7 separate regions of the Homo sapiens genome follow, and all the other regions are linked to region 7. Evidence: fine-mapped expression QTL. A gene starts in region 7. Each other region holds a variant in brackets. All regions are shown on one strand. Distances are between the middles of the regions. Region 1 overlaps TG (thyroglobulin). Region 2 overlaps PHF20L1 (PHD finger protein 20 like 1). Region 3 overlaps TMEM71 (transmembrane protein 71). Region 4 holds the start of TMEM71 (transmembrane protein 71). Region 5 overlaps DNAAF11 (dynein axonemal assembly factor 11). Region 6 overlaps TMEM71 (transmembrane protein 71). Region 7 holds the start of DNAAF11 (dynein axonemal assembly factor 11).

Evidence for each region.
Region 1: its variant is fine-mapped to the expression of DNAAF11 in gastroesophageal junction (GTEx, PIP above 0.99).
Region 2: its variant is fine-mapped to the expression of DNAAF11 in whole blood (INTERVAL, PIP above 0.99).
Region 3: its variant is fine-mapped to the expression of DNAAF11 in whole blood (INTERVAL, PIP above 0.99).
Region 4: its variant is fine-mapped to the expression of DNAAF11 in whole blood (INTERVAL, PIP above 0.99).
Region 5: its variant is fine-mapped to the expression of DNAAF11 in whole blood (INTERVAL, PIP above 0.99).
Region 6: its variant is fine-mapped to the expression of DNAAF11 in whole blood (TOPMed, PIP above 0.99).

Annotation. Positions count from the first base shown.
Region 1 is chr8:132,884,954-132,889,022 of GRCh38, forward strand. It overlaps TG (thyroglobulin), which reads left to right. Exons shown (of 48, transcript NM_003235.5): 9 at 1,495-2,595; 10 at 3,031-3,615. Among named protein-coding and RNA genes, the nearest start is that of TG, 20 kb to the left of the region's middle. The variant C/G (reference allele first, on the strand shown) is at 1,962.
Region 2 is chr8:132,830,712-132,834,780 of GRCh38, forward strand. It overlaps PHF20L1 (PHD finger protein 20 like 1), which reads left to right. Exons shown (of 21, transcript NM_016018.5): 15 at 1,524-1,688. Among named protein-coding and RNA genes, the nearest start is that of TG, 34 kb to the right of the region's middle. The variant G/A (reference allele first, on the strand shown) is at 1,587.
Region 3 is chr8:132,714,966-132,719,034 of GRCh38, forward strand. All of the region lies in intron 7 of TMEM71 (transmembrane protein 71), which reads right to left. Among named protein-coding and RNA genes, the nearest start is that of DNAAF11, 41 kb to the left of the region's middle. The variant T/C (reference allele first, on the strand shown) is at 1,769.
Region 4 is chr8:132,758,910-132,762,978 of GRCh38, forward strand. TMEM71 (transmembrane protein 71) reads right to left here and starts at 1,673. Exons shown (of 10, transcript NM_001382403.1): 1 at 1,567-1,673; 2 at 1-6. The variant C/T (reference allele first, on the strand shown) is at 2,243.
Region 5 is chr8:132,594,879-132,598,947 of GRCh38, forward strand. All of the region lies in intron 10 of DNAAF11 (dynein axonemal assembly factor 11), which reads right to left. Among named protein-coding and RNA genes, the nearest start is that of HPYR1, 35 kb to the left of the region's middle. The variant G/A (reference allele first, on the strand shown) is at 2,482.
Region 6 is chr8:132,708,884-132,712,952 of GRCh38, forward strand. TMEM71 (transmembrane protein 71) reads right to left here. Exons shown (of 10, transcript NM_001382403.1): 10 at 1,058-2,099. The coding sequence ends at 2,084. Among named protein-coding and RNA genes, the nearest start is that of DNAAF11, 35 kb to the left of the region's middle. The variant G/A (reference allele first, on the strand shown) is at 2,063.
Region 7 is chr8:132,673,117-132,677,185 of GRCh38, forward strand. It overlaps DNAAF11 (dynein axonemal assembly factor 11), which reads right to left and starts at 2,429. Exons shown (of 12, transcript NM_012472.6): 1 at 2,368-2,429. The coding sequence starts at 2,377. LOC105375767 (a long non-coding RNA gene) reads left to right here and starts at 2,514. Exons shown (of 2, transcript XR_928665.4): 1 at 2,514-2,689; 2 at 2,776-2,942.

The DNA of each region.
Region 1 (4,069 bases), 210 kb after region 7:
TCCATTAAAAGAGGCCATGGCCTCGTTGAGGGATGTTACGTGCTCTGATGCTGCCAATCTTTCCCCTCCCACCACATTTTCCAGTTCTTTCTCTGTTGCCTGGTTACAGAAGGAAATTGGCTGACTTTCTTTTTGGCATTTATGTGAATCAAGAGGAAAAAAATATTTTAAAAGTTGGGGGGGGGGCGTGGTGGTTAAAAGGTAAGAGTTATGATTTTATGGAGAAAAATGGAGCTTACTTTACATCCACCTATGTAACTGAGACAGCCCCTTGGTGTTTGAATTTTACATTTTTTCTCTCTTAATGTGGCTACAGTCAGCCTAGGATGTTCAGATAGAATGACTTGACCATGCAAAGAGTTGGCTGAGCTGATCACTGTTAAATTAGTAATTTCTAGGAAAGGTCAAGAAGCTCAGAAGAATGTTCTAAGTGTGTACACTGGGTAGGCATTATTGTTTTATATTATAGGAAGTATTATATTTCCTATATTATAATATATATTACAATATAGGAAAATATTTCTTATAATAGGAACCACTAACAGCATTTCAGATATGGTTCTTGCCCTCAAGGAGACCATAGCTAGCCTAGAAAAGACTACTCCCAAGGAGGAATTAGCCACACTAAAATCACATAGTGAAGCATTGAAGTCTATTGAGAATTCCAACGAGAGAATGCTGGAAGACAACATTTCATTAAATACGCATAGGAATGTGTTGGTCTACTAGTCTCCTAGAGCTGCCACAACAAGTCACCACAAACCAGGTGGTTTAAAACAACAGAAATTTATTCCCTCCTAGTTCTGGAGGCCAGAAGTCTGAAATCAAGGTGTGGGCAGGGCCATGCTCTCCCTGAAGGTTCTATGGCAGAATTCTTCCTTGCCCCTTCCTGGTTTCTGGTGGTTGCTGGCAATCCCTGGTGTCTTTGGCTTGTGGCTGCCTCCCTCCAATCTGTGCCTGTGTCTTCACACAGCCTTCTTCCCTGTGTGCATCTTTGTTTATTTACATGACCTTCTTATAAGGACATCAGTCATTGGATTTAGAGCCCACCCTAATCCAGTATGACATCATCTTAACTTGGTGACATCTGCAAAGACCCTATTTCTAGACCACATTCTGAGGTTCCCTGTAGACATGAACATCATGTCTGTGTGTGGTGGGGGACACTATTCACCTGAGTACCATTGGCAAGTGAGGTCAGGTTTTCAGAAAGTGAGCCAGTATTTTCAAGACTTGCCTTAGAAGGGATGAACCTCTAGTGAGAGCTGGTGGAGTGGTCATGCCAACTGGAAAAGTCACACTTCCAAAATGGCCCCACAAAGGCAGCTCAGGGGAAAGGAAAAAATAAAATGACACAGAGAAGAAAGTGGTTTCAAACGTAGGTGTCCTTGATTGAATGTTCTGGCTTCTTACTACCTAAAGGATCTGAGGAGCTGTCTCAGGATTGCTTGTGACATTAAAACCTTTTCTCCCATTTCACTTTGTCTCATGCAGCTGAAGGCCAATCTTGTGCCTCCGAAAGGCAGCAGGCCTTGTCCAGACTCTACTTTGGGACCTCAGGCTACTTCAGCCAGCACGACCTGTTCTCTTCCCCAGAGAAAAGATGGGCCTCTCCAAGAGTAGCCAGATTTGCCACATCCTGCCCACCCACGATCAAGGAGCTCTTTGTGGACTCTGGGCTTCTCCGCCCAATGGTGGAGGGACAGAGCCAACAGTTTTCTGTCTCAGAAAATCTTCTCAAAGAAGCCATCCGAGCAATTTTTCCCTCCCGAGGGCTGGCTCGTCTTGCCCTTCAGTTTACCACCAACCCAAAGAGACTCCAGCAAAACCTTTTTGGAGGGAAATTTTTGGTGAATGTTGGCCAGTTTAACTTGTCTGGAGCCCTTGGCACAAGAGGCACATTTAACTTCAGTCAATTTTTCCAGCAACTTGGTCTTGCAAGCTTCTTGAATGGAGGGAGA[C/G]AAGAAGATTTGGCCAAGCCACTCTCTGTGGGATTAGATTCAAATTCTTCCACAGGAACCCCTGAAGCTGCTAAGAAGGATGGTACTATGAATAAGCCAACTGTGGGCAGCTTTGGCTTTGAAATTAACCTACAAGAGAACCAAAATGCCCTCAAATTCCTTGCTTCTCTCCTGGAGCTTCCAGAATTCCTTCTCTTCTTGCAACATGCTATCTCTGTGCCAGAAGATGTGGCAAGAGATTTAGGTGATGTGATGGAAACGGTACTCAGCTCCCAGACCTGTGAGCAGACACCTGAAAGGCTATTTGTCCCATCATGCACGACAGAAGGAAGCTATGAGGATGTCCAATGCTTTTCCGGAGAGTGCTGGTGTGTGAATTCCTGGGGCAAAGAGCTTCCAGGCTCAAGAGTCAGAGGTGGACAGCCAAGGTGCCCCACAGACTGTGAAAAGCAAAGGGCTCGCATGCAAAGCCTCATGGGCAGCCAGCCTGCTGGCTCCACCTTGTTTGTCCCTGCTTGTACTAGTGAGGGACATTTCCTGCCTGTCCAGTGCTTCAACTCAGAGTGCTACTGTGTTGATGCTGAGGGTCAGGCCATTCCTGGAACTCGAAGTGCAATAGGGAAGCCCAAGAAATGTAAGTCTGTTGGGTATTCAATCTGTAGGTTCCCTGAGTCTCTCTTTAGGCCCTGACCCAATGCAGTACAGTAATAGAAATCCACTCCTGGCCAATGCTTACACTTCAGTTAAGGACAAAATTGACTGCTTATATTAAAAATTATCCAGGAATGCCTAGATAATGTTAATCAGACCTAGGAGTAAATGGGGAGATTTGTCTGGCCTTAAAGAACTGCCACATTTCTGCAGTGCTGATCACCAACTGATGTCAATGGTGCTGATTTAGTCATGGGGCAATGCCTATCTAGATATTATTTACAAATTTAAGCTTCATGGTATTTCTATGGCTATATAAGGTTTTAGACGGAGTTTGGACAGTTAAGTGGTTTTATCTTGGTCTTTCCAGTTTGTTAAATTTCTTAAACTGAAACACCTGCTCATTGTTCCTCCCCAGGCCCCACGCCCTGTCAATTACAGTCTGAGCAAGCTTTCCTCAGGACGGTGCAGGCCCTGCTCTCTAACTCCAGCATGCTACCCACCCTTTCCGACACCTACATCCCACAGTGCAGCACCGATGGGCAGTGGAGACAAGTGCAATGCAATGGGCCTCCTGAGCAGGTCTTCGAGTTGTACCAACGATGGGAGGCTCAGAACAAGGGCCAGGATCTGACGCCTGCCAAGCTGCTAGTGAAGATCATGAGCTACAGAGAAGCAGCTTCCGGAAACTTCAGTCTCTTTATTCAAAGTCTGTATGAGGCTGGCCAGCAAGATGTCTTCCCGGTGCTGTCACAATACCCTTCTCTGCAAGATGTCCCACTAGCAGCACTGGAAGGGAAACGGCCCCAGCCCAGGGAGAATATCCTCCTGGAGCCCTACCTCTTCTGGCAGATCTTAAATGGCCAACTCAGCCAATACCCGGGGTCCTACTCAGACTTCAGCACTCCTTTGGCACATTTTGATCTTCGGAACTGCTGGTGTGTGGATGAGGCTGGCCAAGAACTGGAAGGAATGCGGTCTGAGCCAAGCAAGCTCCCAACATGTGAGCTAACGCATATGAAGAGTTAAATGTGTGTGTGTGTGTGTGTGTGTGTGTATGTGTGTTTAACATATAAAAAAGGATGTCTAGTGGGAGGGTATTGAGTGTCAAAGCTGGAATGGAGTTTAGAGATGGCTGAGAAAACGAAGGCTCACAGAGGGGAAGGGACTTCCCTGTATCAACACAGTCAGGTGTTGGCAAGATTGATAGAGTATATTTTAAAACTTTCATATAATTGATTACTTCAATCAGTGTCTTAGATTTTTACTGGATGTCTTCTGTGTGCAAGCATCTTCATCTTAGAGCTGATGAAGGCTATAAAAGTGGAGATGACCTGGCCCTCGTCCTCCTATGGTTAATGTTTAGTAATCGCTCCTATGTTAGGTGTACCTTTTAATTGACCAATGAATATTACAGTGAACCTGCTACTTGCACAGAATGCTGCTAAATATGCAGG
Region 2 (4,069 bases), 160 kb after region 7:
ATGGAGGGAATGTCTGCTTTTCTTAATCTAGCATTTCTCACCACTGCCATCCCCCTTTCCCACATCTTAAGGTTCATGTAGGTAATGTGTAAGATTTCCCATCTTACAGAGCCCTCTTCTAAACTTCTGTTTCTTCTCTGGTTTCTCCACCTTGCATTTACTCTTCAGCCCCATCTCATACCCACTTTTGTTGCCTTGTTGCTCACGCATAAACCTGGAAATCAATCTTGATAATGCCGTCTTAGCTCTCGGCCTCCAGTCTATAACAGCACTCCATCTTCCTTAAAATCTTCCCCTTATTTGCCATCACCCAAGTTCTGAGCCACCAACATTTCTTTCCTGGACTACTGCTGTAGCCTCTGAACTGTCCCCCCACTTCTATGTGTGCCTTCCTGCATTCCATCCTCCATTCCACAGCTAGAGTGATCCTCTGGAAATGAAACTGTCACATCTTGCTCCTCCTCCACATAAGCATTGAATGACTTTTTATTGCATTAGGGTAAAACTTTTTAAAAAAAGCTAATCTGGCTCCTGTCACTCTAGCTTTGTTTCTCCCTTATTCACTGTGTTCCAGCCAGTCTTACAGCTTGCCAAATGTGGCATGCACTCTTCAGCTTCAGAGCCTTCCCACATGCCTGGAATCACACCCCCACCTCCTTTTTTCCTTCCCTTACTATACCCTCAACTCTCCAGTAAGCTGCATATGGCCTCTCCCCTTGCACACATCTGTGGGACTCATTACAAAACTGAGAAAAACAGAATTTTTACAGAGTTCTTCCAGGACTAGTTAATTACCTTCAGAGATTTATTACTTGAAAAATTTATTGATCAGATTATCACTGTATAATTGGTGTGCCAGACATCAGGAGAACCTCTTTACGAATTGTGGGGAAGAAAAAAGGTGAATTTCCATCTTGCATATCTTTTTTTTTTCCTCTTCAACTTTTATTAGGTTGGTACAAAAGTACCTCAATTACTTTTGCACCAACCGAATAAGTTCTGGGGTACATGTACAGGATGTGCAGGTTTGTTACACAGGTAAATGTGTGCCATGGTGGTTTGCTGCACAGATCAACCCATCACCTAGGTGTTAAGCCCAGCACGCATTAGCTGTTCTTGCTGATGCTCTCCCCCACTTCCCACAGGCCCCAGTGTGTGTTGTTCTTCCCCATGTGTCCATGTGTTGTCATCTTGCATATTTTACTGCAGACATAGTTGTGATTATAATGGAGAGAAAATGTGAAATAATCCTTTTTCACCTCTATAGTACTTCACAAAAGTTTACAGGTACCAGTTAGAACCTGGTGCCCCCTACTATGTATATATTGTCTGGGGTATATTTGTTTCCCAAGTGTTCTTGCTAAACCCAGTTCATCAGATCCATATGTAGCTTTTCATGGATGAGAAGCGAAAGTGGTAGCATGATTATTTGGTGTATCCTGAAACATGACTTTCGTTATTTTTATAGTGACCTTAATTATCTGACACTTTATTAATATTTCTTTCTGTATCTTATGTTGCAGACTATTCAGACTATGAAGACAGTTCCCTCGAATTTTTGGAAAGGTGCTCTTCTCCACTAACTC[G/A]ATCTTCTGGGAGTTCTCTGGCTTCACGAAGCATGTTTACGGAGAAAACTACAACCTATCAGTACCCAAGGGCAATTCTATCCGTTGATCTTAGTGGTGAAAGTATGTGTAACCATGTGATGGTTAAAACAAGACTTACAATTCCTAAATGTGTAACTGAGAATAAAACGTACTCTGTTAAGAGCATGCGATTTAAAAACTTGTTAGCTAAACTAATATGAAAGTCTTGATGTGAGAAATTTGAGCTACTTTTTAATTTATATAAAGTTAAATTGGCTTTATACTTATTGGTGGAAGAGAGTCATAAGGAAAATATTACTAGTGTATATACTTCTGTAGGTTTTTGCACATATATTTTTATATTCTTCACTATCAACTGACAGAGTAGGTATTATTCACATTTGATATATAAACAAGCCGAAACTTACAGGGTAAGTAGCTTTTCGGCTTAGCTAGTGTTAGAATTAAAACTCTAACCAAGGTCTGTCTTAACTCCGTAGATAATGCTTTCTTAAATAAACATTTATGGTAATCTTAAAAGTATACTTTGAATTCCTGGTCAGATACATCTGTAACCAAAGTCCTGAGATGTAGTCAGACAACTGATTTAAACACAGGCAGGAACTAAGCGCCCTTAGGTAGTCAGAAGGCCACGTCAGCAGTGAAGGGAGCACTGGAGTTCAAATCTGTTAGACTTTCCTGCAGGTCCAGTCCTGACAGTGGAAAGTGTTGAAGACTCTTACCTTGCTTCCAATATTGTAAGCAATAGGCACAGAGATCCCAGCTGTAGACATTGAGGGCTGTGGCATAAGAGTAGAGCTCTAATGCAATAGCAACCAGAGTCAGAGAGTGAGGAATAAGGGACGGGGCCTTCAGCATAAGTACAACCTAGGATCCTTGTGAGTGAGCTCACTTCCTCCCTTTTTCTTTCTTCTGACTGACCTCGATGGTGGATACTAGGTTAAATGTTTGCTTTTGCACCGTTTGCTTCCAGGTCTAAGTCCTCCCTGGCTCGTTATGGAGAAAGCATTTTCTTTCCTTTATAGCTCATGACACTTGTGAGATTTTATTTTTAGAACCTTGAGGTATGGGAGGGGATTAAAAAAGAAGTTACCACCACCCTTTTCCAGCAAATACAAGTCTACTTTTTCCCATGGTTCAGTGGTTCTTCACCCCCGGTGAACCTTACAATCATTGCTGCGGTTCTTCTAAACTATACTGATCATGGATCCTACCATGAGGCACAATTGAATGAGATTTCTGGAAGGATCCTGGCAAGATACAACTTCTAGGTGATGCTATGGAGAAGCAGAGGTTGATAATCACATTAAGAACATCCTTACTGTGAATCATCAAGATCTGAAGATTATCTCTTGCTATAGAAAGATGGAGAATAGGGGTTATATCTAGGCTAGTTGTGGTGCTGAAACAAGAACCCTTGAAAGAGCATGAAAAGAGCCATAGATGTGTACTCTCTGTTCTTAGTCTCTGCCCTGCCCTTATGATCAAGTACTAAGTCAGGAGAAAGAAAAGGAAAATTAATAAGGCCTTAGGCCAGAAATTCTCAATGTTAGCATGTGTCAGAACTGCCCAGAGAGTGTGTTAAAACACATTTCTGGGCCTCACCCTCAGAATTTCTGAGTTCCAGCAAGTTCCCCGGTGATGATAAATGTTGCTGATCAGGAAACCACACTTGCAAAATGCTGTCTCAGGAAATAGCAATGACAATTTAAGGGGTAGTTGCTGGAAGGCAACAGCTGTTCTTGTGGCCACTCAGTTGGAGCCATTGTCTAGGTGGCTATTCAAGCGTAAGGGGGAACTTTTATTTGCTTCTTACATAACTTTCAGCTCTGTCATCCATTTTACTCAACTTCCAAAACTCAGCTAAGCATAAGTTTAATGCTTGGGAGTTATTCAAACTAGATTTGTGGAGAATATGATAAATTTGCTTGCTAACACCATAAAACTGGTAATCTTTGCCATGCAAGTATATGTGAGATACACTAATTCCTTTCAATGATATAATTTCAAATTAATTTTTATTTATTTATTTATTGAGGCAAGATCTTGCTCTGTTGCCTAGGCTGAAATACTGGTGTGATCGTAGTTCATTGCAGCCTCAAACTCCTTGGCTCAAGCAATCCTCTTGCCTCAGCCTCCTGAGTAGCTAAGACTACCAGCACAGGTCATCATGCCTAGCAAATTATTTTTGCTTTTGTAGAGATGAGGGCTTGCTTTGTTGTACAGGCTGGTTTCAAACTCCTAACTTAAAGTGATCCTCTCACCACGGCCTCCCAAAGTGCTGGGACTAGAGGTGTGAGCCGCTGTGCCCGGCCCATTTAATACTGTTTATATGCTGCAACAGTGTTTGAAACTGTTTTACCCACATTCCAATGAACTTGAGAAAGCCCAAAAGAAAATTTGGATTTAAGCCAGCAAGATTATGGATGGGTGAAATTTTCCTCTTTAGGTTCTTTTAAAAC
Region 3 (4,069 bases), 42 kb after region 7:
CAACATCATTCCTCATTACAGTAATGCAAATTAAAACAGCGAGATATCACTGCATACCTAGTAGAATGGCTAAAACCCAAACAACTGGCAATACAAAATGCTGGGAGGATGCAGAGCAACAGAAACTCTCATTCATTGCAGTTAAGAATGAAAAGAGTGCAGCAGGGCGCGGTGCTCATGCCTGTAATCCCAGCACTTTGGGAGGCCGAGGCGGGCGGATCACGAGGTCAGGAGATTGAGACCGTCCTGGCTAACACGGTGAAACCCTGTCTCCACTAAAAATGCAAAAAAAAAAATAGCCGGGCGTGGTGGCGGGCGCCTGTAGTCCCAGCTACTTGGAAGGCTGAGGCAGGAGAATGGCGTGAACCCGGGAGGCGGAGCTTGCAGTGAGCCGAGGTCACGCCACTGCACTCCAGCCTGGGCGACAGAGCAAGACTCCGTCTCAAAAAAAAAAAAAAAAAAAAAAAAAAGAATGAAAAGTGTGCAAACAGTTGGAAGATAGTTTGGCCCTTGCTTACAAAGTTAAACATAGACTTACCATATAACCCAACAGCTTCACTTGCTTACAAATTTAAACTTAGACTTACCATATAACCCAACAGTTGCACCCCTTGGTATTAATTCAACTGAGGTGAATTCTGTGTCTGTACAAAAATCTGCATATGATTCTTTGTAGAAGCTTTATTCAAAGTGGTCAAAAACTGGAAGCAACCAAGACACCCTTCAATAGGTGAATGTATAAACAAACTGTGGTACATCCATACAATGGAATATGATTCAGCAACAAAAAGGAATGAGCTAATTGTAGAATAGCACATTTGTTATTGCTGTGGGTTAGTATATTTTCTTAGAGGAGGTGAATAGTTTTCTGTATTAATCATATACAAGCAAAATATTCCGTGAGAGAAATAATTTGTTCTGACAAAACAAGAAATTAAGGGAAGACAGAAATGGTGGGAAAAACTGAAGTCCCATAAGCGATGGCAGCAGCAGCCCATCTGGAGTGGCTGCTGCAAAGACGCCAGCTGCAGCAGGGGAGGCCTGGCCAGGGTTGTGGGCTTCGCAGAGCCCGAGGGAGCCGAGAACAGGAGGGAGCCCGGAACTGGAGGGGGCCCCGCCCTCCCAGGTGCAGCTGCAGCCGCTCAGCCATGGCTCTGAACCCAGGCATCCCTGCACTCTTGGGGGCCTTGGAAGCCCCCCTGTGCCTGCAGGCTTGGAAGCGCCTGCTCCTGCCCCTGGCCTCTCCCTGCTCCTGTTGCCCGCTCTGATTTCGGAGCAAAGTTGTGGCTAGGCCCGGGTGCTATCGCAACCTAGCAGTGACCAGACCCCACATTTGTTTGCTCACACGCCCCTCACCACTCCACACCTTGCTTGTAAAGGCTCAATATATTTCTGAATCAGAGTCATGGCAGTGAAGAGATGGAGATCTAGATCACCCACACTGTATATTCCATAGCATATTTTGTCTGTAAAAAAGCTACTCAGACCAGTCAGACCTAACACCCCCTTTCAAAAACAAGCATTTCATTTAATAACAGTGATGCCTCTTTTTATCCTGTAATAAATTTCATAAGTAATATAACCCATCTACATAAGTAATCTAGAGATGATTTAAACTATATGGGAGGATATACATACGGTATATGCAAATACTACATCATCTTATATAAGGGGCTTTAGTATTCAAGGATTTTGGTATCTGAGGGAAGCTCTAGAATCAAACCCCCTTCGGTATTGAGGGACAACTGTATTCAATGCTTGTACTTTA[T/C]AGTTATGAATAATTTATAACTTGAAAGATATAAATTATCCTCTCTCTCTCTGTCTCTCTGTCTTTCCCACCCCATCTCTAACTTTATTACTACATCTATCTCTATGGCACTTCACAACTGCACATTGTTCTGTGGTGTGAATTTATTTATTCAGTCCTCCATTTATGACATTTGGGTTGTTTCTATTTTTGCTATTACCAAAATGATGTGCAAGGGACCCAAAATAGCTAAAACAATCTTGAGGAAGGAAAACAAAGTTGGAAGGCTCATGCTTTTCCACTTCAAAACTTACTACACTATACGCAAAAGAATGAAGTTGAAGCATTACTTTATGCCATATACAAAGGTTAACTCAAAATGAATTAAAAACCTAAATGTAAGAGCTAAAACTATAAAACACAACAAAAGATGGGTGAGAAACTTCATGACATTGGATTTGGCAATGATTTATTGAATGTGACACCAAAAGCACAGACCACAAAAAAAGAAAAAAAGTAGAGAAGTTGGGCTACATCAAAATTTAAAACTTCTGCACATAAAGAATACATTCGACAGAGTGAAAAGGCAAACCACAGAATAGGAAAAACATTTGCAAATCACATATCTGAGAAGGGGTTAATATGCAGAATATATAAAGAATTATTTTAACTTAACAACAAAAAGCAAACAGCCTGGTTTAAAAAGTGTCAGAGTACTTGAATAGACATTTCTGTAAAACAGATACACAAACAAACATCCAATAAGTGCATGGAAAGATGGTCAACATCATTATCCATCAGGGAAATGCAAATCAAAACCACAGTGAGATATCACACCACACCCACCAGGATGGCTCTAGTCAAAAAGACAGACAATAACAAATGTTGAGGATGAGGAAAATTTGGATTCCTCATACATTGCTGGTGGGGGTGGGAGTGTAAGATGGTGCAGTCCTATTGGAAAACGTTTCAGCAGTTTCTAAAAATATTAAATATGGACTTACTATATGCCCAGAAACTCCATTCCTAGATATTTAACCAAGAAAAATGAAACTGTATGTCCATACAAAACTTGTGCACCAGTGTTCATAGCAACATTATTCATAATGGTCAAATGGGGAAAAACTCAAATGCCCATCAACTGACGAATGGATAAACAAAATGCAGTATATCTATGCAATGGAATATTATTCTTCCATAGAAAAGGATGAAGTACTGATACATGCTACAACATGGATGAACTCTGAAAACATTATGCTACATAAGTCATACCAGACACAGAAGTCCACATATTGTATAACTCTATAGGAAATGTCCAGAATAGACAAATTCACAGAGACAGAAAGTACATTAGTGGTTTTCAGGAGGTGGAAGAGGAAGGAAAGGAGAGTAACTGCTAATGGGTAGAGGGTTTCTTTTTTCAGTGATGCAATTGTTATAGAATTAGAGTGGTGATGGTTGCACAATTTTGTAAATATACTAAAACCACTAAAGGTGCACTTAAAAATAATTTTTAAAATCTGTTTAAAAATACAATGAATAGCATTTTTTAAAATGCAATGAATAGCATTTTACATATGTCATTTCACACAATAAATTATTTGAAAAGGCCTGGCCAGGTCAAAGGAGATATGTAACTTTAAACTTGGTCGACATTATGGAATCTCCCTACCTGGGGATTTTCTCTTTTTTTTTTTTTTTTTGAGACAGAGTCTCGCTCTGTTGCCCAGCCTGGAGTGCAGTGGCACAATCTCGGCTCACTGCAAGATCCACCTCCCGGGTTCACACCATTCTCCTGCCTCAGCCTCCCGAGTAGCTGGGACTACAGGTGCCCACCACCACGCCTGGCTAATTTTTTATATTTTTAGTAGAAACGGGGTTTCACCGTGTTAGCCAGGATGGCCTCCATCTCCTGACTTCGTGATCCATCTGCCGCAACCTCCCAAAGTGCTGGGACTACAGGCGTGAGCCACCGTGCCCAGCCCCCCTACCTGGGGATTTTAAGAATAAATTGTTAAAAATTTCACAGCAATGATGGAGCATGTCTGCTATTTCACAACCTTGTCAAAAAAGTGTGACCAAGCATTTGAATTTTTGCCAATATGATGGGTGATGATGTCACTGAGTAGATTTATTTCAAAAAAGAATAGTATTTTTATTGTTTTTATTTTCAAAATGTGAATCATTTGAAAGAGATTACGAATAAATACAAAAAGGAAAAGAAAATATCATCAGAAAAATCCCACCATATGGAAGAAGTTATTAATAAAATCTGGTGAATATCCTTTGGAAATCTCTTTATATGCATTTTAAAACTGTTAT
Region 4 (4,069 bases), 86 kb after region 7:
GATTCTCTGCAAAAGATGTTAAAAAAAAGGTGGACTATATATTAAAAATAGAAAAATTATGCCAAAACAGATGGCATCTACTAATTGCACTAGTCAGATTTGTTTACTGAAATAATACAGAGATACAGAATTGAAGGTAGGAGACCAGACTGAAGACACAACCCCTCTAAAGTTGTGTCTGCCTCTATGACTGAACATTTTCCATTGCCTCACTCAGTGCATCTCAATAACATTTTTCTGTAAATAAGAACCACACTTTATTTGGAAAATCTAGACTTAAAAAGGTTGATTTGTAATCCAAAGAAAATAATGAAAGTGAGGTATTTGATTAAGAAATCTTAATAAAATGACTGGTTCTAACAGTCATTTAGCCCCAAAACAAACTTACGTGTATTTTAATCATCTGACACAAGTCAACTTCATTATCAAGTTTCAAACAGTGCTTGGAGATTGGTGTCTGTCTTTTTCCCAACAACTTGAACCATTGACAGGTAGTCACAGAGAGTGATTTTAATAGTTTTTATCAGCCTGGACATTCCTAAACAGCATAAGTAATGTTGCACTAAAGATAGCATACCATTGGGAAGATTTTAGAACTTAGTTCCCATGAAGACATGATTTAATTTCTCAATTACTAATTAAAAACATATCAAAGTATGTAAATTATGCAAACTTTGATCATTTACTGTTCATCAAATAGAACCAACTTCTGTTGACTATGAAACTTTGTATATAGTATCACTATCCTAATCGCTTTATAAGGTAGGAGTAAATTATTTTCTGATTCACCACTTATGGCCACATTTTGTAACATGAGAACTAGTAATGGATTGTTTTTGTAGCTGTAATTCAATCAATCAAACCAGGCTAATTCTACAGCTTCAAGTTGAATATTTCAATAAATTATATATAAACCCTATTAGGAAAATATAAACCTGGTTTATAGAGACCTGTAAAGATGTCAGGAGAACTTTCTGGCCTTCCTTGGAAGATTTCTAAATCAAAGCACACATTTACAAATTTCATTTGTTTGGGATATAAAATAATCCCAGTGTAATGTAATATATTAGTATGTTACTTGTTCTTTTCATTTTTGATCAATATTGTACGGGTATGCCCAGCCCAAATTACCTTATTTTAGTGTTCCCCAAGTATTAAGCTTAATTTTAAGCCTATAAATCCTGCAGCAAAAGAAGGTCTTATTGCTCTATCTCACAAGTGCTTAGAAGAATCTACAGGCAGTACACTGACATTCAATAGAAAATTAGTAACAGTAGGAAAAAAAAAAGCCCTTCAGTTACAGATCTAAAACTTTTCAAGAAACAGAATCTGCCAGTTCCATCAAAGCGACACATCTATTCTGAAAAATAATGTGTGCATACGTGTTCCTTCCAAAGGGAGTTCCCAGCCTCTTCTTCCAATTGACAAAGGACAAAATTATTACTGAAATACGAAGCTTCCTGTGGTTGACAGTGGAAAAATTGAGGACTGAGCAGTTCCTCGGCTGAAAAATGTCTGAATGTCAACAGGTGCAGAAGTCTCTTAATAAAGGGAATCCCACCCTACCTTCTTCTCACAGATGCCCACGCACATTGCTGTGCACAGGTGCTTGCAGAGAAGTTTTGTCTTCGGCAGCCTCTTGTTCTCTTGTCTGTTTCCTGGTATAAATGAGTGTATAGTTCTTGGGAAAGTCAGTCTTACAACTTCTCTTGTTTTCTTTTGAAAACAGCCTGCGTAACCAGAGGCAAAGAAGCAGAATGAGGTCACACTTCCTGTTGGGCTCACATCAGTGGCATTCACACTGAGGAGTGTGCTGAAGATTTCAGAGAGTTTCCTGGGCCAGCAGCAGGGAATGTGCAGCCCATGTGTCAGGCCAGCTGGTTACACCCTGGTCACTGGAGGGGTGGTTTTCTGAGCTAACTTGTCACCTTTGGCTGCGAGAACGTGAGAAAGACTCAGCGAACTGACATTTCTTGCTCATCATATGGCCACATTCAGTTATAAGTAGTGCAGAGTAGTGATCTTTGTCCAAATCACTTAAATTTATTGAGGATAATGCACTGATGCTATTAAATTCAGAATACTATTAAATAGCAAGAGCTTGATCTTATGAAAATTTCTATAGAGGCAATAGGTTTATCTAATGAAGGTTGGACTTCACAAAAAACTCTATAGATGGCATTTTACATTTACATTATAGTAGAGCTCAAAGACTTGATGGTGTTTATGGGTTCATACACAT[C/T]TGTACTACTGTAAGTGATAAAAGAAATGTACATTCAAATATATATTCCAGCAACATTGAGGTACCACTGCATAGTGGAAAGAGTGCGGATTCTGGGGTCACAAGACAGAAATTCAACCTGTCTACCATCCTAGCTGTGTGACCTCAGATTTGTGACTTACCCCTCTGAGTTGCAGTTTTCTCAATTATAAACATAAAAATATATATGTCATATGATGGCTTGAAGAATTAAATGAAATAAAAGAAATGAGAAATAATCGAGTCCTCAGCACAGATGTGCAAGGTGTATTCTTTATTTGTTTTCTTAAATCAAGTTCTCTTCTGAGGCACCAGTTGGTCCGGCTGGCGGAAAAGTTAATCTCATCCTTTCCTGGGGTTCCCTTTCCCCCTGAGGTTCTGCCACATGGCAGGATCTTCTGTAGAACATGTTCTAGGCAGCAGGAACTGTCAGGAGGAGGGCCCATCTAATTTCAAAGTTCTCTGTCTCTGGAACTTCATGTCTATTCTCCATCCCTTGAGTGTAGACTGAGGCTGCTGACATGCTCCTTGTAAATAAAGTAAGGCAAAGGTGCTGAGTTTCCACTACCATGATGAGGCTTCCATCTTGTTGGACTCTATTACTTTCTTGCTTGCCTGCTTTGATGAAGCAAGCTGCCATGGTGGAGAAGCCCATGTGTCAAGGAATCAAGAGTGGTCTCAAAAGCCAGTAAGGGTCTGATGCTCCATCCAACAGCCAGGAATCCAGCCAAAAACCAAGTGTGTGAGCTTGGAAGTGGATCCTTCTCCAGTTGAGCCTTGAGCTGACTGCAGCCCCATCTAATGCTCGATTGGAACTGGGAAAGACCCAGAAGCAGACAACCCAGGCTAGCCCTGCCCAGCTCCCTGGCCCACGCAAACTGGGAAGTGACAAATGGTATTTCAAGCCACCACGTTTTGAGGTAATTTGTTACACAGCAACACATAGCAGATGCATAGTCCTAACACAGGTCACTTCCTGAGCCATCTGTCATTGCTGACTCTCTGCTGCTTTAGTGACTCCTGTAGAATATAGTCACATTTACTCAAGGCTACTCCTGGTCACATCTGCCTAAATTTAACAGACAGCTATTCTGCTTCACAGCTGTCTGGTATTCTCTTTACTGGAATTCACAGTTCTCTTCTTCTCCTTTTCCTGTTTTTCTTATCCCTCATCCTCCCTCTTCCAGCCTTGGCTTATCTCTTCTAGATGAGGGAGGAAAATCTTTCTGACTTATTCGAGACCCTCTGCTCTTCCTGTGCCCACAAATCCACTTTTCCGAAGAGCTCACATCAGAAAGACTTTGGTCTACTTTTTTTTTTTTTAAAGATCTGGCACATATTAGAACCTTATTATTAATGATCATAATAATTGCTAACTTTAAGGAGTGCTTACTATGTACCAGGCACTGTTCTAAGGTCTTTCCACATATCAACACATTAATTGTTACATCAATTCCATGGGAGATGCTGTATTATTATTCTCATTTTACAGAAGAGCAAACTGAGTTTAGAGAGTTGCCCAAATTCACATAGCCAGTACGTGATGAGTAAGTAGAGCTAGGATTCAAACCCTGATGAGATGGCTCTCGAGTTTGCTTTCTTAACCTATAAGTGTAATGATCATATCCAACGTGTGTCAGCATTTTCTACAAACCAGGCACTGCACTAAACACTGTACATATGTAATCTTGTTTCAACCTCACGTAGCCCTAGAAAATAAGTGCAATTGTTATCCACATGCAGGACAGAGGTTTATAGAGTTTGCATAAATCTTTCAAAATTGCCAATGGCCAGAACTAAATTCCAAAC
Region 5 (4,069 bases), 78 kb before region 7:
GGAAATTGGTACCAAGAATGGGGGTGGTTTCCCCCATGATGTTCTTGTGATAATGAGTGAATTCTCACGAGATCTGATGGTTTGATAAATGGTAGTCTTTCTGGCTCCCTCACACACTGTCCTGCTGCCACGGTCCACGTTTGCTTCCCCTTCACCTTCCACCATGATCTGGAGGTCTCCCCAGCTATGTGGAACTGTGAGTCAATTAAACCTCTTTCCTTTATAAATTACCCAGTCTTGGGTATTTATTTATAGCAGTGTGAAAACAGACTAATACAGATGTAAACAGAGAAAGGGGCAGAAATGCTCTTGGCAGAAAAAGCACAGAAAACACAAAAGTCCTGCCGGTGGGAACAAGGTTCCAGAAACTTATTGGAACCTTCTGTATTCCAGAACCTTATAGGAATTTCCTGTGTTTCAGAACCTTTTTGGAATTTTTTGTGTTCCCGAAAGAGAGAGAGACAGAGGGGAAAAAAAAAAAAAAAAAAAAAAAAAAAAAGCTGTGTCCAGAATATGAGAGGAGAAAAGTGGAAGAAGGTATCAGAAACATAGGCAGAAACTACCTTGTACACAGCCTTCTGGGCCACAACAAGAAGTCTGAATATATTTCAAGTGCCATGGAAAGCCATTGGTAGGTTTCAACACGGGAATAAAGCTATTATTTGCAAGATGTATATTTTTATTTTGCAAAATTTACTTCTTTAAAAAAAATAAATAACAACCACGTTGAAATAATTACACCTGAGCACAGACAAAAGACTGAAAAGAAACAAAACAAAATGTTTATCCAGATAGTGGGACCATGAGTTATTTTTTTCTTTACATTGTGTTCTATTTCTACAGTCATAATTTCATAATAGGAAAGAAAAAATATTTTAAAACACAACTATAAACGAAAAAGTAAATAAAAGGGCATTCTGGCTTCTCTATGGAGAAAGTATCAAAGAGGGGAAAGAATAGAGCAGGGCAAACCGTGAGAAGGCTGTCCAAGGTAGTCCAGTTGGGGGAGGACACTGGCTTGATGGGAGGTGATGGTGGGAGGTGGTGTTAAGAAACTGAATTCAGGATGTATTTCAGTAGTGGTACCCGCAAGATGTAGTTAAGCATGCCTCCTAATCATTGACTTGAACAACTGTGTATCAGTTGATGGCGCCATTTTCTGAGACAAGGATGACTATGGGAGGAGCAGGTCTGCAGAAGGAAATCATGGGTTCATTTGGCTATTTTAAATTATTGAGGCTGGATATCAGCAAGATAGCAGGATAGGAAGTCCATGCTGACCATGAATTCATGTGGCCCGTCAATTGGCAGGTGCATACAAAATGTCATTGATTCTCAGGCCAATAATTTGCTAATATTTATATTATGAGGAAAATTTTTAAAGATGTAGTTACTGATATGTATATGTAAAATCAACACTGACAGTTACATAAGGCAGTTATGTGGCCTTGAGTAACCAGAGAGCAAATCTAACTATCAACTGATTCCTTCAAAATTATTTTCTACTTGGAAGGTCACTCTTCTGACAGTTCCCCATAGAAGATCATCCACACATTGCAGTCTAAAACTGAAAATATTTTATTAAGTTAGGACAAACATTAAGACTGAGAATAATATATAAAATGAAAATAAAATTTTCTTTTACAATCTTGCTAGAGACAGTCTCTAAACATGCTGGAGAGGGTTTTGTGCCTTAGGAAAAAAATGACATCCTGAATTCAACCCTTCTGTCTGACCTGCAGGCTAAGTACCCAGGACCTGAGGCTCCTCCCACTCACAGTAGTGGTGTTCACAGTAGGTGATAAAGTGAGCAAATAACCAGGCTGACTTGCCTAGGCTACTTTAGCCTCACTGCCTAGGAGAAAGCTTCAATATCAGGAACACTGGAATAAAACAAAGAGCGACACTCCCTCTCCTGTTGCCCCCTGTAAGGATCCAGAGTGATGGGGGCATCAGCCTGGTTCCCAGCCTCGAAGGGACTGTGATGAGATCTGTCCGACTAGGGACAGCTGTGCAGGGAATTGCCACAGTCTATGGCTTCTCCCAGTTGTCTTGAATTGTTGTCTGATGTTGTCTTATGTTTTCCTCCTCATTGCTGGCAATTAGAAGAATGACCTGTCATCCACCCCAACTGGCCAATGGGAAAAAGGGACAAAGCCCATTTTAAGTGGCAACTTTGCAGTTCTGCAGAAGCTATGAAACCAAGTCACAGAAAGACTGTGTTTGGAGCCTTTGCAGTCAGGGACAGAGACATCACTTGACCAGTGGAGAGCTAGCCTTGGGTCACCTCTTATTTTATTTTTAAAATAACCATATACAGATTCATGGATATAAAGAATACAAGAAAGATGCAGTTGATGGGTCTGTTTCAAGACGTGGCTGTTCCCCAGAGCCCACCGAGCACTGCCATTCTTGAGAGCACCACCTGCCCTGTGTGTAGCCCTGAGGAGCCTTCTCCCTCATACCTAGGAGCCTCACCTC[G/A]CAACGGGAGGCCTGTGAGTTTCCAGTGCCCGCAAAGCTGATTCCATTCTTGGATCAAGGTCAGCTGTGCAGGGAGCTCCTGGTGAGATCTGACTTACCTTCTGAGCAGCTAGGGCCTGACCTTCATCTGGTATCTACTATATGTTTATTTTGACAAGAATGTATGAAGTTGGCAGCAATAGATTTCATTATTTAAGTGACATTTGTTTATTTCACTTCCAGGAAACACAGAAAAGAGAAAAGACAACCCCTTGGTCTGGGAGGATGCCAGGCAAGGTTTTAGAGAGGATGCCCATGATTTGGAAAAGAGGCTTCTCTATAACCTTGAAGAAAACAATTATCTGCAAATAATGTGTATTTCCTTGTCCCCAGTTGACAACAAGCTGGGTAACTATGCAGGTTATCTTCCAATTAAAGTGGTATGAGGAATCATGGAAGAAAGGATACATTTCATTGTATCTACTTTTGATCCTCAACAATTTTCTTAGTGGGGTTGGGGGGGAATTTCACAGGAGAATAAAGACTGCTAAGATACTGATACTCATGAAATATCCTAAACCACTTCCTTATTTTAGAGTAGAAATATTGGGAACAAAATTTTAAAGGTGAAGCACTTTACTATATTAAGCTGCTAATGATCCAAAAGTAATCTGGCTGTAGATGAAAATTATGAGGCATTGTTTGTGTTCATTTGGAAACATACCCTATGATTTAAGGCAACATCAGAATTTCATTTCCTCTTCTGCAAAATGATAATCACCCCTACTCCATAAGATGTTCAAAGTATTCAACACTGTGTGTGGCACATGGTAAATGCTCAATAAATAGTAGCTATGTCTTTGTCGTTATTATTAACTGGTATAAGGATAAAAGCAAGAGCCTAAATGGTGTGTCTACTTATCACATTTATTACAGGATTCTGAAAGAAGAGAACTAATGACCCCAATCTAGTGTTTTCTATGACATGACACATCTATTTATTAAATTATGACCTTGGGAAATGTATATAACCTCAGCAAGCCTCATTAAATAATCTGGATAATAAAAATCCCCAGGTTACAGGGTTATTGCAGAAAGTGAGTTGTTTAAACTGTTTATCACAGAGCATATACAATTTTTGCTAAATAGTCATAATTGTAGATATATGAATGTAGGTGGTAAAGTCTTTCAGGGCAGGGGCCAAGCCAATTTTATTTTTCTATTCATAAAAAGTATAGCACAATATCTCCCAGACTGAAGGTATATAAAATGTTTTCAGTTTGTGCAGTGGGTATACATGTAAAAACCCTAAGTATAAATCCTGCAGTTAGCCATTATCTCTTTAAATATTATCTCTGCTAGAAATAAAGATGTTCTTTGAAACCAATGAGAACAAAGACACAACATACCAGAATCTGTGGGACACATTTAAAGCAGTGTGTAGAGGGAAATTTATAGCACTGAATGCCCACAAGAGAAAGCAGGAAGATCTAAAATTGACACCCTAACATCACAATTAAAAGAACTAGAGAAGCAAGAGCAAATGCATTCAAAAGCTAGCAGAAGGCGAGAAATAACTAAGATCAGAGCAGAACTGAAGGAGACAGAA
Region 6 (4,069 bases), 36 kb after region 7:
GGGAATGCAAGCAGTCTCTAGGTTTTACCCTTGTAAGGCTCATTTTGGACTGACCCCCAAAACTGTAAGATAATAAATTTGCATTGTTTTAAGCCACCAAATCTGTGGTAACTTGTTACTGTAGCCATAGTAAGCTTATACAGCCGGGGAGAAAATGTCCTTGTCAACAATGAAGCATTATATGCACGTAAACAGTTAGTACTATTTCAGTATCTTACTTTGAAAAACATTATCATTTAAATCAAATGACTCTGTAGAAAAATGTGTGTTACACATAGACAAAGGAAATGTAGAAATTCTCAATGGAAGTTCTCCTAATAGTGTATTAAATGAAAGGCTCCATATGCATTTAGTTCTCCATTAAATTCATTTTAAATCCCACTTCAAAGCATTCATGCACGTGGATTGTGGATCACTTTGTGATCACTTAACCTACTTGTAAAAATGGCAAAGGCATGGGACATATCCCAGACCTACTAAATTATTACACGAGGCTATTTCAAATACAACTGTGGTAAGCTTACTAATGGTCCCCCAAAATAGCCAGGTTCTAATCATAGGAACCCATCAATGTTACCTTATATGAAAATAGGGGCCTTGAAGGTGTCATTAAGTCAAAGATTTTATCTTGGATTATCAGAGTGGATCCTAAATGTAGTCTCAAGTGTCCTTTAAAGAGGGAGGTAGAGGGAGATTTTACTGCAGAAGAGGAGAAGGTGATGTAATGATGGAAGTAAGAAATCAGAGTGGTGTGCTTTGGAGGTGGAGGAGGGGGCCACAAGCCAAGGAATACAGACAGCCACTGGAAGCTAAAAAAGGCAAGGAAATAGATTTTTCCCTAAAGCCTCCAGAGGGAAAATAACTCTGCTGACCTTTATTTTAGACTTCTGAGCTCCAGAACTGTAAAACAATAACTTTGTGTTGCCGTAAGCCACTTGGTTTAGGGTAATTTGTTAAGGCAGCAATAGGGAAATAATACAGTCTTCAATGAATGATGTTCTGCCATGATTTCTCAAAAAAATATATATATACATATATATATACACACACACAAATATAAATTTGCTGATGACTTCACTTATTTATTAGTTTATTTTTTAACCAAAAATGTACTAAATGCAAATTATATATAAAGTTATATTTTGGCATTATCATTTCGAGCAAAGACAATTTTCTGCATGTATGAGTTTTTACTCAGAGAGTATCACATAGAACAAATTTGAATTACAGGCCATATTTGCTTTGTGAACACGCACCAAGTGTGGGGGGTGGAAAGGGAACATCTACAGCCCTTGAGTCAAGGCTCAAGGGTACAACTGCACCATTTTCATGCATTTGAAAGCGCATTGGTGTTTTGCCTATATTTTGCCCTCAAGGCATTTTTCTGTGTTATATCTTTAAGTGACATTAAAGTGAAAGGTAATTACGAGCCCCAAGAAGATTAAAAACTTGGTTTAGAACGTGGTTCAAAAGAATATAACTTTCAGAAAATGCTTCTTTCCTGTCCATTTTCATATTAACCATCATCTACGGTTACCACCTAATATCAAGTCACTCCACTGAGGTGAATGACAAACTTTTGCAGCATTATATTTTATGTACAAATTGCATTTATTGTTATTCAAGTTGTCAGGTTGGTATTAGTTAGACAAACTTGCTCTCATTATTCTATTAAAGCAATTCAGCAAGAGATAGGTGCATGTGGCAGACCCAGAAATCTGGTTACAAGCTCCTCACAGAATTTCCTAATGAAAATTCAAGCTCGAGAACCACTGCCTTAAAGAATCATAGGGGGACATTTATTCCAGGCGGTCTCTTTTCCATCACATTCCCCGTCCTTTTCCTTTCAACTGCCGGTGTTTGCAAAGGGAAGGCAAATTAATATTATTTTCATGAGCATATTATAATTTTGATGGAAAAACTGAGATCATTTTAAAATCACATAGTCAAACTAAAATGGCTTTTTCTCCATTACTCGCTTACTCCCTTCCAATAAAACACTTGATTCCAAGTAGACTGCAAGTTGGACAATTTCCAGATATTCAGATGGAGGACATTCATC[G/A]AAGGCATTCCTAAATGGTTGTCAAATTTTGACAAACCTAGATTGGAGAAATAAGAAAAGAAATGCATAATTCATCCCCATGCACAGGAAATGCAGTATCTAATCACTGCATACCCATTTGCGCATATATAAGCACACACCCACACCCATACCCACAACGGGCCTGAATTATCACAACTAGGAAGAGTGCAGCCTCAACTAAGGGTACTTTTCGTTTTTGCTTTTATCCCAGCAGTTCTTAGTGCTCTCCTTTTTGTCTGAAAGACTATAGAGGTTTTGACCCCTCAGCCCAGCGTGGTACTTAGTTAACTAATATTTCCTATGGTTTCCTCTTCCCACCTGCCCTTATGGCATTTTTCTGTATTATATCAGTATTTTAATTGCACTTTAAGTGAAAGGTAATCATGATCCTCAAGAAGATTAAAAACTTGGTAAAGAAAATGGCTCAAAAGAATACACCTTCCAGAAAATTGCTCTCTCCTGCCCCGTAGAACAGCCTGTAGGGTAACAGGTGGATTTTCCCCATATTTTTATTCCCTAAAGTTTATTCACTCATTCATTAAGTATACGAACATACATTCCTTCATTTAAGAGAGAACAGATGTGACCCATTTTGTTACTATGAAATCATAAGTGTGCAAAACGTGTACCGCTGATGCTAACACATCATTACTAACATGAGATACCTGTGCTGACCTTCATTTGCAAGGGACACTCAGGCCAGTGGTGGACAAGACAGATAGTCCCTATCTTCACAGGCTTTAAATTTAATCAGGAAAGCAGTTGACTAAGAATTTCATTATGTTATGAAAAGGGATATGATGTGAGCCGTGTGAGGTGCTAAAGAGGCACCTAATCTAATCTAACTTGCACAGTGCAGGATGGGTGTGTGTGTTGGGGGGAGGGTGCTGCATTAATATTTGTTGAACTGAATTCAGTTCCTTAGATTCTCATCATTGATTGTTAGAGGAGACTTATGAGTCATTCTTGATTCTCGATATTAATAACCATATCTTTGGTTTATTAGTTTCTCGGTATGTTTATATAAGAAGGAGAGGGTTGCAAAATCTTTAATATACACGCAGAGCTCTTGGCTTTCAAGGAAGTACTTCAAGAAATGATGCAGTAAATACATTAAATTTAATGAATATGTACAGAGTACATACTATTTTCAAGGCTTTGGTTGTAGATACAAAAATGAAGTCAATAGTCCTTGTTTTCACAGGTCTTAAATGCAAATGTGTGTGTATATGAGGCTGGTGGGCAGGAAACAGGAAAAAATGGAGTTGGGAACAAGAGAAGAACAAGTCAAAGTATGTACACAAATAATCAAAGAAAGGATCTCCTTCCATAAATGAGTCAGAAGATAAAAGTGTTTGTTCAGGATAGAAATATTGTCCTGATGTAATTTCTTTTGGGAGAGAACAAACAATGAGCTCAGAACAATGGGAAGTTCTGAGAAAACAGCAGGTGATATAACCCCTGCAGATCGGATATTGGCTCTTCCAGGAGGCCCTCCCTGAACATACTCCCCACTCCTCTTAGTCTGGGAAACTGACCTCCTTGTGCTCCCCCTGGCTCCTGTACTAACCTGATATTTGCACTTACCATATTAAAAGGCAACTTCACCTTGCCCCTTACAAGTCCTTTACTCTAATGAGATGATAAAATCTCAAAGCCAGCCACATGCTGGGGCATTCACACCCTGGTACCTAGTGACTGTGTCTAACCCATGGTAGACACTTCATTAACAGCAACTGAGCTAAACTTGGTACCCCATACCGTATAGAACATATTGTAAATTCTTAATAAAGATTTGGTAACTTAGGTGGTGCCACTTTAGAAATCAATAATTGTTTTAAACAAATGTCATTAACTCCTTTTTCTTTTTTCTTTTTTCTTTTTCTTTTTGTTTTTAAGACAAATTCTCTCTCTGTAGCCCAGGCTGAAGTGCAGTGGCATGGGCACAATCACAGCTCACTGCAGCCTCCACCTCCCAGGCTCAAG
Region 7 (4,069 bases):
CTTTCTCCACCCACATCTTTCAAATCTGTCCACTCGCCTCAGTCCTGTGGGCGGCAGTGCGGTGTAATGCAGGACCCAGAGGAAATCTTCGTGGGTTCTGTTCCCAGCCCTGATAGTTACTGTGTGATTTACTCTCTGTGCCTCACCAAAGAAATAGAGATGTCAGTAATCCTTCCCTGCCTTAAAAGGCTGCTGGGAAGATCAAACAAGAGAATGCAGGTAAAGCATGTTAACCAAGCCTGGCACATCAGAGCTACTCATTGGAGGAGTGCTTGTCATCTGTCCTGTTGCCACGACCTCAGTTCAGCCTACTATCTCCCACTCGAACTCCTATAGGGCCAAGCTATGCCCATGAACAAAACCTTTTGGTTTCTCTGTGGCTCTTTTGATAAATTTCTAAATCCTAAGTACAAAACCTGTATGAGCGGATCCCTGCCTACCTGTCAGGCCTTCCTTATCTCTTTGCTCTCCACTCCTTCTTTCTGTCTCACACCAGTTCCTGTCAGTGACAATTAGCCACCAAGAAGCCCTGCTCTTTCTCACCTCTGGGCAATTCACTGAGCTTTCCTGTTTCCTTTCCAGACAGCACTGCTTCCTCAGAGAAGCCTCCACCCACCTTGGGGTTAGGTCCCCTACCCACACCCTCAGGGCACAGGCACCCCTCTCTCTCCTGGCTGTAACCACTATACTTCTGTTTGTCTTCTCCCTCCCTAGGAGGGTAGGCCCACATCTGCCTCCTTCCTCACTGTATCCTGCATTCAATACCTGATTCAAGGTAGACACTCCGATGCAAGTCTGACAAGTTAATGATTTAACAAATCAAAGTGGGCACGACTCAGAGAAAGAGGGCAAAGGAAAATTCCCGACATAAAAAAGCGAAGAAGAAGGAGAAGGAGAAGGAGGAGAAGGAGCAGGAGGAGCAGGAGCAGAAGGAGCAGGAGGAGGAGGAGCAGGAGGAGGAGGAGCAGGAGGAGGAGGAGCAGGAGGAGGAGGAGCAGGAGGAGGAGGAGGAGGAGGAGAAGGAGGAGGAAGAGGAGGAGGAGAAGGAGAAGGAGGAGGAGGAGAAGGAGGAGGAGGAGAAGGAGGAGGAGAAGGAGGAGGAGGAGAAGGAGAAGAAGAAAAAAACCAACTAGGGTGAGACCAGGGGATGGGGAGACAGCCCTGAGAAGAGAGGAAGAAATATCAGTAGCTGATTTAGGAAAGGAGTTTCAACATTTACAAATCACTCCCCCCCGACCCCCACCTCTCCCACTTGCAGGCTGTCAGGTCTTCCAGGGCAGAAAGCCCATCATCTGGAGCAGTCTCTTGATTTAAAAAAAGTTAATTATGACATTTTTACAATGATAAGTGATCAATTAGGTAGAGCTGTACAAAACTGCCATATGGGGAGCTCAAAAACGTTGTCGATATCAAAATGGTTCATACAATATAAATAACTTACCCGCATCACCTTGCAGTTTGTTAGTATATTCTTAAAGAAACACGTTTACTACCGGGCGCAGTGGCTCACGCCTGTAATCGCAGCACTTTGAGAGGCCGAGGCGGGCGGATCACCTGAGGTCAGGAGTTCGAGACCAGCCTGGCCAACATGGCAAAACCCCGTCTCTACTAAGAATACAAAAATTAGCCTGGCGTGGTGGTGCACGCTGTAATCCCAGCTACTCAGGTGGCTGAGGCAGGAGAATTGCTTGAACCCGGGAGGCGGAGGCTGCAGTGGGCCGAGATCGCGCCGCTGCACTCCAGCCTGGGCGACAGAGCAAAACTCTTGTCTCAAACAAACAAACAAAAACACGTTTATAACACTTACTGTGTCTAAAACAGTAGTATGATTGCCATTATTTTGGAGATGAAGAAGCTGAGGCCCAAGGGGTGAAGTCACTCGCTCAAAGTCACAGGAAGAGGGAGGACTTCAACCCTGGCTCCAGAGTCGGAACCCTCCACCATTAGGCTACACTGCCTTCCGGAATGAGTCCGAAGATTGCGGCTTGGAGACAGTGACTGGCCCACGTTCACAGCCAGTAAGGAGCCACTTGGCCGGAACGTGGTGTGTCTGGCGCCAAAACCCCTGCACGTTCCCCGACCCCTTTCCTGGAGTCCAGTGCCTTTCTGCCTCTTCCTCCCCTTCCCACGGCCCCGCCCATTTTACAGATTAGGAACCTGAGCTGGAAAAGGCCAGGCTGTCCGGCCAGTCTGCAGAGGACCTGGTGCAGCCGGGGCTGCGGTGCGGAGGGCCGGGTGGGGTTAGGGTCCGCCCAGGCGCGGGGGAACCGACAGCGCAGGGCGGGAGCGGGCGGCGAGGATCCCACGAGACCCGGGACTACTTCCACAAGGGGAACGATCGAGGACGGAAGGTGGAGGGGGGCTTACTCCAGCCCATGGCGCCTCTCCAGTTCGCTGACCCCGCAAGCCGGACCCGGACCTCGAATGACGCTTTTCACCCTTCACCCCTGCTCCTCAGCGCGTCCCCGTCGGAATTCAGGAGCCATGGCAACGGGGACTCTACGGCGGCCGCGCGGGACCAAAACAAGCCGCGTTTCCTGAGCTCCGCGGAGCAAGCAGAGGAGACCGCAGTGAAGGGGCTCAGCAGACAGGGGTTCCCCAACCCAAACCCAGTCTTCGTCCTCGTCGCACTTCCGACTTGCCACAGACTGCTTCCCTCTCCCTGAATCAATGGTTTAGAGTGAACAAAGTATGAGGACGCTTCTCTTTTCTGTGCCTTCCAGGCTTGCCTTCCAGACCGCCTTTGACTTTTTCCTTTTTGTGTTTGATTTACAGCTTCCAGAGCCAACAGATCTGGATTTGGCCCCCAACTCTACCAGCGGCGTGACCTTACACTTCCTTCTCCTCAGTTTGCACATCTGTAAGATGAGAAATAACCTAAGAGGATCACTGTGAAGCTTTAATTAGATAATTTGAGTGAATGAAAGACACTATGAAAACAACAGGCTCACTATAAAGATTCGTTGTCGTTGTCATATTCCAGCTTTTTAAAGTCACTCTCCAACACTCGTTTCCGGCTAACAAGCTTTCCAGAAACGCCACCCATTACCCCCTCCATCAATTTCCCTATTCTCCACTCTCTTAATTGTAAAATGTAGGAAGTATATCTCCTACAGCCCCACACTCCCCTCACGTTTCCCCAGACCCTTCTCCAAAAGTGTGCAACGCGCCTTCTCCCATTCTAAACTAGGAAGCACATCAGCAAGCTCATTCACCCTCAGATCTTAGTGTTAGCACTTTAATGCGTTAGCTTCCCAAGAATCTTTAAAAGGTACCATTATTATGAAAGTAATTATTATTCTTTACTCCATTTGCAGAAAAAGGAGGGGGGCAATATGTAAAAGGTAAAACCTTCTCCCATCCCAGTCGTTTTAAACAGTATGGAGTGCGTGCTTCTTATCTTGATGTGTGTATTATGTTTGCATTTTAAAAGAAGATTCCTAGAGCAATGCTGAGTGCAAAGAAATTAATTTTTCTAGCGAATAGCTGTTAAGCATTTACAGCTGGCAATTATTAGAGTTTGCCAGGTAGAGACAAGGTCATGAACTTGGACAGAGAGGCAGGAAAGTCTAACAGAGTGAGGTGATGGGGGGAAGCAGAAACATCAGTTTGGCAATAAAGAGAGCTAGATAGAAGGGATCTTCGAACAGTAAGAATGAGAGATTAGATCGGGGGTAATGGGGGCCTTAAATGCCAGGCCAAAGGAACTGAACTGGAAGAGTGGGATTTCAGGCACTATTTCCCTGAATATTTGGATTTCCAAGGAGGCCTCCCAAAAGGCACTCAAACTATAAACTTACCTGACATCCACTATTATTTTTCTGAAAGCAGGTTAGTGTGAGGTGAACAGTATTAGCTCTGGCATTGGAAACATAGATTAAATACACAGATTTATTACTGTGTGGCATCAGACAGATGACTTCACCTTTGAAAGCTGAAACTTCTCTATTTCCACATGATGATGACAATATGGGTAAACATCTGTGGTCGTGCCACTGACACGCTGACACTGACACGTGACACTGAGCACTGATGTCTGATTACTCACAAAGGAGATGAAATGCTATTA